Linked DNA regions of Homo sapiens: region 1 is linked to region 2. Evidence: fine-mapped expression QTL. A gene starts in region 2. The other region holds a variant in brackets. All regions are shown on one strand. Distances are between the middles of the regions.

Region 1 (5,372 bases), 26 kb after region 2:
CCCCCCCTTTTTTTTTTTTAAGAGATGAGGTCTCTGTGTTGCCTAGGCTAGAGTGCAGTGGCTATTCACAGACTTAATCATGGAACACTCACCCTCACATTCCTAGCCTCAAGTGATTCTCCCACTTCAGCTTCCCAAGTAGCTGGGACTACAGGCTACAGGCCCATGCCCAGCTTCCTGGTTAACCCTCCACACCTTCCTGCCCCTTCTTCAGTGGCCCACAGTCATGCACTAGGAAGCTACTGGCTGGAGCTCTGGATGCTCAAGAAACAGACCCCCAGACCCCACCCCCAAAGGCTTGCTGAAAATGCCCTGCACTCACTTACCCATCTGCCTTGACAACCAGGGTGTTCTGGTTCTTTGAATTTGTAGGACTGCATGGACTCCACTCCAGTGAGGGGCCAGCACTAAAGGCAGTTACACAGCTTCCAGAGGCAGCTGTATGATGGGTGAAAATTCCACTGGGAGTGACCATGGTGGTTAGGGCACTCAGAGGTGAGGTGGGGAGTACCAGGAACCAGCACTCCCCCCACTCAAAGTCTCCAGGTATTGGGCCGAGGAATTGGACTGTTCAAAGAGTAGACATTCAAAGCTGCGTAACATTGGATGAGTTAGCCAGCCTCTCTGAGCTGCAGCCAGTTTGTCATTTACAGGATTGCAGGGAAGATGAAATGAGATCATCTTTACGGAGCTTATCACAATGCCAAACACATTGCAATTACCGAACACTTGTTAGATGTCAGTCTGCCCAAGGTTAGCCAGCCCTTAAGTGTTCTGGCCAGGCTTGAACCCAGGGATGTCTGGCTCAACTGCTGAGCTCTTAACACCTCTTCAGGATCTTTTCACAGCCTTACCCTGCTCTCCCTTCTCCTGACTCTTGTCACTCTCTGAAGCTCGCAGCTAAATTGTAACAAAAGAGGAACTTGTGGCTAATGGCTCAGCAGGATTAGGAAGCAACTGCTGCGCATGTTGACAGATTCCAGAAAACAAAATTGTTACCAGCTCAACTCACTTTGGTGTTCATGGTGAGCACTGGGGTAGTGGGGAGCACTTCACTTGGAGGATTGGTTGTGGGGCAACTCCCACTGAGGGCTTGCAGGGGTTCCCATACCCTCGTGCTATGTGTCTTTCAAAAACACAAAGTTTATTCTGCTTCAGGCAGCAGAGACAGAAAGAAAATAAAAAATAATCACAAAGTTTAGGAATGAGGTTTGTTTTTTCCAGGCACTGCTATTCCCTGAGGCCATTCTATGGTCTTTTTATTTGAATCTCAAATGTCAAAATATTTTTTTTTTTAAGTAGAGGTGGACGCAGGAGAAATCTAACTATGAGAATGTGCGTGGCAGGTTTCAAGGCAGCCCACGACGTGAGCAGCCTGACAACTTGGTCCCTGCAAGAGGAGGCTGGTGTGGGGGTGATGTGGCGGGGGTGGGATACAGACAGAGACCAGGAGAGAAACAGAAAGTGAGAAAAAGAGACAGAGAGAAAAAAACAGAGCCACATAGAAACACACACACACACACACACACACACACACACACACACACAGAGAGAGAGAGAGAAATAGACCATAAAAAAAGAGAATAGGAGAAGAAAAACACACAGAGAGAGGCAGGGATGGAACTAGAAGAGACAGAGACAGAAAGACAAAGAGACAGAGAATCAGGAGAGAGTGGCTAAGACAGGCAGGACCTCAGGTCCTCTGGGATTTAGCCAAAGGCACTGCCCACAGCTTGGCCTTCTCTTGACTTCATTCACTCATTCGACAAATATTTAAGACTGCTAGACTTGAGTGGCAACAAAGGCCTCCATTTCTCAAGCATTTTCCATGTGCCAGGCACCGTGCTAAACATTTTACCTGTATTATCTCACTTTGTTCTCACTAGTAACTATATAGAGTAGTTATTATTATTATAGATCCATTTTACAGATTGGGAAACTGACACCTCTGGCCAAAGTCCCAGGGGTATTAAGTGATAGAGCCAGGTCTGCCTGCCTAGATCTCTCACTGTGCCATTAGGCCAATCACTATTACCCTTCCTCCTTCCTCCTTCCTCCTCCTCCTCCTTCTTCTGCTTTCTTTCTTCCTCCTCTTCTTTCTCCTCTCCTCCTCCTCCTCCTTT[A/T]TCTTTTTTTTTGTTTTTTTGACACAGAGTCTCACTTTGTCATTCACGCTGGAGTGCAATGGTATGATTTTGGCTCACTGCAACCTCTGCCTCCTGGGCTAAAGTAATTCTCCTGCCTCAGCCTCCCGCATAGCTGGGATTACAGGCGCCCACCACCACGCTCGGCTAACTTTTTGTATTTTTGGTGGAGATGGGTTTTTGCCATGTTGGCCAGGCTGGTCTCAAACTCCTGACCTCAGGTGATCCACCTGCCTCGGCCTCCCAAAGTGCTGGGATTACAGGCGTGAGCCACTGCTCCCAGCTCACTATTGCTCTTCTAAATGGGACAGGAGACAGAAAGTGAGGCTCAGCGGGTAGGGAAGGAGCATCTGCTTCAGGAATTCTTCTTGTGGGCAGGGAGATCACGGGGAGCTGAATTAAAACAGTAAGAAGGCTGTTCCACATAAACATAGGGTTTTTAACACAGTGGAGGGATGGGCAGAATTGGCAAGGAACAGTAAATCATGCCCCTAAAAGCACAACATGCCTGTGTCCTAGGAACACGAGGATTAGAAGAGTTCAAAAATTCACAAACTGATGACAATTAGAATATCAGGTATAAGGAGCTACAGGGTCTTGGGAATTTGTTTCTTTTTTTAACAAGGCACTAACTCACCATATCAGGTGGCTTTGCAGTGAGCACCGCTTGCTTGGTGTGTGGAGTCCTTTAGAACAGGGATTTTTAGTCTGAGGATGTGGGTGGACTCTGGTTTGTTGGGAGTCTCCTGAGTTAGGATAGAGCTTTCCTGGTTTGGTTCTCTGGAAGCCGACCCTGAGTCATGGATTCCTCTAGAAGTGGTTCATTTGGAGGTGATACCAGAATGCACCAGAAAAGGAACAGAGAAGTGAGGCTTGGAAAGGAAGAAAGCCAATAAAAGGCATGTTACTGAGCGCTGTGGACAACCGAGGCCCCGATCTCCCTGGGAACTCTGGGGACGGCGCAGAACATGCCTCAAAGGTGTCCCTCCCAAGGAAAGGGGGAGCTGGGTATTTACCCCTCAACCCCATCCCTCTTTAGCTGAGGTCCGCTTCCAGGCATATCTCTCTGGCAGTTCAAGATGCCTTATGAGCCACCAACATAGAGTATTTGATTCTTACCTGTGGGTCTTGAATCCTTACGGATCTCAGACTTATTTTTAGAAGTAGGAAAACTGTTTGTACATTACATCAATATGATAACTTTGCAGATGAAGTATAGGTGTTTTGCAAGTATGACTGAATTCTTAATAGCTCTCTGTATGTGTGAAGTTGGGGTGGGGTGGGGACACAGGATGTATTTTCTTTCTTTCTTTTTTTTTTTTTTTTTGAGACAAGATCTTGCTCTGTGGCCCAGGCTGGAGTGCAGTGGCATGATCATGGCCCACTGCAGGCTTGACCTCCTGGGCTAGGGAGATCCTCCTGCCTCAGCCTCCCAAGCAGCTGAGACCACAGGTGCACACCACCACACTTGGCTAATTTTTAAATTATGTATACAGATGGGGTCTCCCTATGTTGCCCAGGCTGGTCTCAAACTCCCAAACTCAAGGGATCCTCCTGCCTTAGCTTTCCAAAGTGCTGGGATTACAGGTAGGGGCCACAACGCCTGGCCGATAGGATGTATTTTCTTAATTACTTGAAATACAAATAGTGTTCTATTACCAAGACCTCTTTTAATTTCAAGGGACAGAAACCCAACTCAAACTGGCTTCATCCCAAAGAGAATGTTTGGTTCATATGATTACAAAGGTGAGAGGTGGGTGGGTCTCACTTTCAGTCCAGCTGAATCTAGAAACTCCAACAACATCACCAGGGATCTGTCTTTTTCTCTTTCTAGGCTCTGTTTTACTTTCTCTTGTTTTCATTTGCAGTCATGATTGCCCTGCGCGGCAATAAAATGGCTGCCAATGGATCCAGGCACACCTCCTAGAGGCCTGGGAGCTCCTGCCAAAAGAGCCAGTCGGTTTCCCATTGGCCAGTTTGGACCACGTGACTTTCTCTGAGCTACCGTGGAATCTTTGATTGCCCAGGCTGTGGTTAGGTCCTCATGGTGTCAGGAAGGAGGATCAGTTCCACTTAAGCCTGTAGCCCCAGAGCCCCTCTCTCTTTCCTCAAAGGAAAAATTGAGGAACTGTTACCATGAGAAGAGGGCCTGGATTTCCATTATAACCGACATATGGAGTCCCTGAAGTGAAAAAGGGACCCTTCTTTTGGAAAATGTTGAGTTCTAGGCCAAAATGTACCAGGGTCTTTCTAGAGAGACATGCAATTGTTTGGCCATGGTGTATGGTTGCTCTTTCATCATTTGATGAAATCCTTTTGATTATATAACCTCTCAGAAAATTCTCCAGTAGAAAATAGTTGAAAGAAAGGAAGGAAGGACTATGGGGAGGGAAACTGGGGAAGCAGAGCAGAGCGAGGCTTCAGATAGTCACTGGAGAGGAGGGCCAGGTGGAAGCCATCTTCCTCCAGATGGGATCCTGGAGTATTGAAGGTCAGGTCCAGACTGATAAGAAAAGATGACTTCTAGAGCCACTAGTAAAGCCTCTCGAGACAAAAAAGCACACCCTCCTGCTGATTGTCCTTCATAGTCTTTTTAGCTTTCGATGGAACAAACTGTGCTGTGATAAACAACCTTGTATAAAAATCCTGACCCAAGGTGTTGAGCATTTCTGTGGGATCCGTGGAATAAATTAGGATGCAGCACACTCTGGCCCATAACTCAGCTTTAGAGCTCTGTGTAATGACCTGGAGAGATGTCCATTCGAGATATGTTCTTTCTCCCTGAATCTATGTTGAGAGAGATACACATAAAGATATAGATATATCAAGGGCGGGGGCATGGGGGAAGCAAAGCACATAATAACTTCTTTTGAGGAAAACAAAGTCTCTTATATGTATCCTTATGAGCAAAGAGAATGATGTGGAAGGAACTATACCAAAGAGTACTGGAAACATTGATGTTTCAAAGATGTGGGACGACAGGGGTTGAGAAAGGTTATTAGCTTGCTTACTAGGCCTGTGTGTTGCTTGAATCCTATAATCGCATGTGACCTTTTTCTTTCTGTCTGTTTTTTTTTTTTTTAATTGAGACATAGTCTCTTTCTGTCGCCCAGGTGGTGCAATCTCGGCTCACTGCAACCTCCTCCTCCCGGGTTCAAGTGATTCTCCTGCCTCAGCCTCCTGAGCAGAGTAGCTGGGACTAAAGCCATGGACCACCATGCCTGGCTAATT
Region 2 (5,369 bases):
AGCTTAAAAAATGGAAAAGTTGTACCCTCCCTTTACCCAGGGACTGAAATTTGGCCTGAAAATTCTTGCAGCATCGTAGCAGAGAGAAGCCAGATTAGAGATGGGCCCAGTTGAGGATTCATCCCAACCTTGGGCAGATCGCTTTTCCTAAGCCTGTTTCTTTTCTTTTGAGACGGAGTTTCACTCTTATCGCCCAGGCTGGGGTGCAATGGTGCAATCTTGGCTCACCACAACCTCCACCTTCCAGGTTCAAGTGATTCTCCTATCTCAGCCTCCTGAGTAGCTGGGATTACAGGCATGCGCCATCACACCCAGCTAATTTTGTATTTTTAGTAGAGATGGGGTTTTTCCATGTTGGTCAGGCTGGTCTTGAAATCCCAATCTCAGGTGATCCGTCCACCTCAGCCTCCCAAAGTGTTGGGATTACAGGCGTGAGCCACTGCGCCTGGCTGCCTCAGTTTCTTTATCCATGAAATGGGGTTCGTGTTCATCTCACTGGATGAAGATGAATGATGGCGGATGGACAGCACTTACGACCACGTCATAATGAGCACCCAATATATGCAGGCGACGGCTAGGATGGGTGGCATCCCATAATGAGTAGCCAGCGTTCCAAAGGTGGGGCACGAGAGAAAGGTATAGCAAGACTCGGAATTCCAACAGTTAAAGGTAAATCCTGGACACTCTTGTTGCCTCATGTATTGAGTGGCTTTTTTGTCCCCAGACTTGCTAAGCTAAAAATGAAAGGGAAACCTTAGGTGCTCATTAACTGCCTACTTGCTTTTTCCCAGTTTCGGTTGAATAATCACTTGACTATAATGTTTAGTAAGTCAAAAACACACATGCTGAATATTCATGGAAATTTTTTATGTTTCTAGGAAAAATACAAGAGTGGGGAGGTTAGAAGCTAAGTTGTTTTTTGTTTTCTTTTGTTTTTTTTTTTTTTTCTTTCCCACACATTCTCAATTTCTTCTCAGATTCAGGAGAAGAGGAAAAGGCTATGACTCACTGGAGGTTAAGAAACCCCTTCAGCCCCCTGTTTCTCTCCTTGTTAGACCATAAACTGGCAGCTGTTACTCTTTAGGAAAAGGAAAGAAAATCCAGATGAAAGATGTTTTGTTTGCAAGCCATCTCCCAAACAGAACCTCAGAGTTCCTGAAATTCAGTGTGAAACAATCATCTATGTGACACCAAGCACTTTTACTAAAAGGATTTCCCCCATCACTGAGCTAAACCCCTACTGGAACTTTTCAACTGAGTCTGTCAGGAGGAAAGGTTTTTTTCTTAAATGTTCTAAGAGTGAGACGGTGATAATTTAACAAGCACCTGTAAAGTGTTAGTTCCCATCAGCCCTGCTGATCACTTAAGTCAAGCAAAATGCAGACACAGAAAACAGGGTGGATGATGGAGAAACCTCTCCACTGGACACCCCAGCCCTGTACTCTTCTCAGGAAAGCCTCCTTCTGTACTAAGCCAGCCATGAGCCCTCCCTAAGGCTGAGCTGTAAGCAAAAGAATGTAAAAGATTCTGAACCCCAGCTTCAGACCCTCCTCCCGAGATCATAAATAGCACTGAGAGCTCAAGTTAGGACTTTTCATACCTGTCAGTCACTTTTAGCCAAAATATGCCAACAGGCCCCTGCACCCGGAGGTGGATTTACAAGCTCAAAGCTGAACTATGACAATAAAAGAAACACATTTGCAGAGTGACTGGCAGTTTATTAAGCACTGCTTCAAACATTTGATCCTCACAGCTACCTAGTGACAACTCCCCATCTACCCAGTGGGGAGAGGAGAGACTCTCTCCCCCGACAGCTCCTTGCCCAGTGACCACAGTAGCTTCCAGCTTCCTTCGCACATCTGTTCATTGTCATCTGTGTTATTTCTGTCCTCATCAGGGATGGGGACATCTCATTGCAGCTCTGCACTTTAATAATAAGCAACCCCAGATCTTCCAGCTCAGTTGGCTCTGGGGAATTGAGTCCAAATCCATGGCCAGTTGGAGAGCAAGTCCAATCCAAGACAACTTCTCACACCATGAACACCTGGGAGAGCCGGTGTCAGGCCTGACCTGGTCAGCCTAGTTCAGATGTCCATTCCCAGAGGCTGCCTAATGCCAAAGAGTGTCTGCTCACCCTCAGGATGAGGCCAAGTCACCCTGGAAGCCCCCCAGTGAGCAGCACTGGGCAAGGTGTGTGATGCCTGTCACCCTCTCCACTCAGGAGCCAGAGAGATGCCGTGGGGCCAGCCCTTCCCGGTGCAGACCTGGGGACCTTCCCTCTCTTGGCCAGCTTCTCAGCACCCACCTGCCCTGGAGAGTGGGAAAGAGGGGAGGGCTGAAGATGGGTTAGCACAGATGGTGACCACCAGGAGGTCAGGGGAGGAGGGGGATGGGACGATGGAAAGGTGAGTGTTGCCCGGAAAAGTGGACGATCAGCTCAAGATTGTGGAAGGAGGTTTATGGCGCCTCATAATTCGTGGGACAGGGGAGGAGGGTCACCACGTGAAATATGGGAAGTGGGTGATGCTGAGGGCTGGGGGAGGGGACAGGAGGTGAGGAAAGAGGGGTCACAGGGGAGAAGGGAGATGGAGGAAGGGACCACGATGGGGCAGGGAAGAGGAGTAGGAGGAGGTCTAGGGAGGGTGATGCCCGGCTCCGAGGCGGCGGCGCTTAGCACGTACGAGCACTGGCCTCGGCCGGGCCGGGATGCGGGCGCCCGGGTCCCGGAGCATCCTCGGCGGGGGCGGCGGCGGCGGCGGCGCCGGTAAGGGAGGGCCGTGGGCCTGCAGCTGCCGGGCTCCCGCCTCCAACCCCTGTCCTGGGGTCGGCCCAGCCGCGCCGCCCTCCCGCCCCGGCAGCCCCCGGAGACGAAGCTTACCTGCGCCCGGGCGCGCGGACGGCTGCCGGGACCCAGGAGACGCCGCCGCCCGAGGGCGCGGACCCGCGGACGGCCCCTGCCCGGCGCCGCGGAGCCGCCGCCTGGCTGCTGCCCAGCCCACGCCGCGGGAGCCCGAGCCGGAGCCCGAGCCCGAGCCTAAGCCGCGCCGGTGCCCCTGCCGGTGCCGACGCCGCGCTGCGCTCCGCGGGGCCGCGAAGACCACAACTCCCACAATGCCGCGCGCGCTGGGCCGCCGGGGGAGGGGGTACGGGGGGGCGGGGCCTGCGGGGCGGGGCCGGGGACCCCCCTGCACCCGGCACCTGCGCTCGCAGTGCGGGAGGCGACCCGAGGCCGCGCCCGCCGCCGCTCCGGAGGGTCCTGGCAGTGCGCCCCGAGACGCAGCGCCCGCCCAGCCCGAGGTTGCGCGCAGGCGGCGACGGGCGTGCAGTCATTCATTAAGAAAGGCTCGCGTCGCTTCCTTCGCTCTTTCGTTTTTCGCTCTGTGTCTTTCTCAGTTCTCCCTCCCTCTGTCTCTCTGTTCCTCTCTGAGTCGCCCTCGTCTCCATTTCCTCCTTTTCATTCTCTTTCACTTCCCCCCCACCTCACTTCCTCTCGCCCTAACGCCTTCTTTCCTTTATTGATGGACTCAACACGGACTTCTGAGGCCCTCAGGCACTTGGAATGGAACCGCAAATCAAACCAGATTCTTAGTCTCATGGAAAACTCATTCGCTCAGTACAGTAATGATGGGCCAGCCTGGGTCCCCGTCCCTGCCAGCTGCGCTGAGCGTGCGCGGTGAGCGCTCAGGCCCGCCCTGCCCTCAGTGAGCCACCGTCTAGCGGGAGGGGACCCTCACCCCCGGGTAGGGTTTAGGAGGGGAAGTACAGGCAGGACGGTTGTCTGACCAGGGGACTGATGAGCTGCGAATGGAGGCCCCAAGGAGGCTGCTTGGAGGAGGTGACGTTTGAGCTAAGACCTGGGGGAGACTAACAGTGGCTACGGGATGTGTTAGGGGCGCCAGGGAAACTGCATGGGTGGGTTCTGGGAGCATAGAGTAGGATGGCCCGCCCACAATCCATCTGTCTCTGTCCCAGACCCACCTCTCTTGTGTCCCAGAATTTATCTCTAACATGGCCCAGAAGCCACCTCATGTCTGTCCCAGAATCCATTTCTCATCCCTATTCCAGAAGCCACCTTCACCCTGTTCCAGAACGTACCTCCTTCCTGTTCCAGAACCCACCTCCCTCCCTGTCCCAGGACCCACCTCCACCCTGTGCCAGAACTCACCTCCTTCCTGTTACAGAACCCACCTCCTCCCTCTTCCAGAACCCACCTCCTCCCTCTTCCAGAGCCCACCTCCTCCCTCTTCCAGAACCTACCTTCTTTCTGTCCCAGGACCCACTTCCACCCTGTCCCAGGACCCACCTCCTCCCTGTCCCAGGACCCACCTCCACCCTGTCCCAGAGCCCACCTCCTCCCTATTCCAGAAGCCACCTTCACCCTGTTCCAGAACATACCTCCTTCCTGTTCCAGAACCCACCTACTCCCTGTCCCAGGACCCACCTTCACCCTGTGCCAGAACCTACCTCCTTCCTGCTACAGAACCCACCTCCTCTCTCTTCTAGAACCCACCTCCTCCCTCTTCCAGAACCCACCTCCTCCCTCTTCCAGAACGCACCTCCTCCCTCTTCCAGAACGCACTTCCTCCCTGTCCCAGGACCCACCTCCTCCCTGTCCCAGGACCCACCTCCACCCTGTGCCAGAACCCACCTCCTCCCTGTTCCAGGACCCACCCCCTCTCTGTTCCAGAACTCACCTCCACCCTGTTCCAGAACTCACCTCCTCCCTGTCCCAGGACCCACCTCCTCCCTGTCCCAGGACCCACCTCCACCCTGTGCCAGAACCCACCTCCTCCCTGTTCCAGGACCCACCCCCTCTCTGTTCCAGAACTCACCTCCACCCTGTTCCAGAACTCACCTCCTCCCTGTCCCAGGACCCACCTCCTCCCTGTCCCAGGACCCACCTCCACCCTGTGCCAGAACCCACCTCCTCCCTGTTCCAGGACCCACCCCCTCTCTGTTCCAGAACTCACTTCCACCCTGTTCCAGAACTCACCTCCTCCCTGTTCCAAGACCCACCTCCACCCTGTCCCAGTACCCACCTCCTCCCTGTTCCAGAAGCCACCTTCACCCTGTTCCAGAATGTACCTCCTCCCTGTCCCAGAGCCCACCTCCACCATGTCCCAGAACCCACCTCTCATCTCTGTCCCAAAATCCACCTGGTCCCTGACCTAAGAATCTGCCTCTACTGTGATAGCCTAAAATCCACCTCCTCCCTGTTCCAGAACCCAGTTTGTCATGTCCCAGAACCCACTTCTTCCATGTCCCAGAGTACACCTCTCCCATGTCCCAGAATACACCTCTTCCATGTCTTAGACTCTTCTTCATCTCTGTCATTTCTCTCCTTTTCTCAACTCCAAAAGAGGAAGAAT

Evidence for each region. PIP is the estimated chance that this variant, and not a neighbour inherited with it, causes the effect.
Region 1: its variant is the best candidate, but not a certain one, in a credible set for the expression of ASPHD2 in whole blood (TOPMed, PIP 0.80).

The regions. Positions count from the first base shown.
Region 1 is chr22:26,400,636-26,406,007 of GRCh38, reverse strand. No RefSeq gene overlaps it. Among named protein-coding and RNA genes, the nearest start is that of ASPHD2, 26 kb to the left of the region's middle. RefSeq lists an enhancer at 579-1,095. The variant A/T (reference allele first, on the strand shown) is at 2,124.
Region 2 is chr22:26,426,996-26,432,364 of GRCh38, reverse strand. It overlaps ASPHD2 (aspartate beta-hydroxylase domain containing 2), which reads right to left and starts at 3,105. Exons shown (of 4, transcript NM_020437.5): 1 at 2,879-3,105. RefSeq lists silencers at 928-1,222, 2,955-3,014, 3,135-3,264.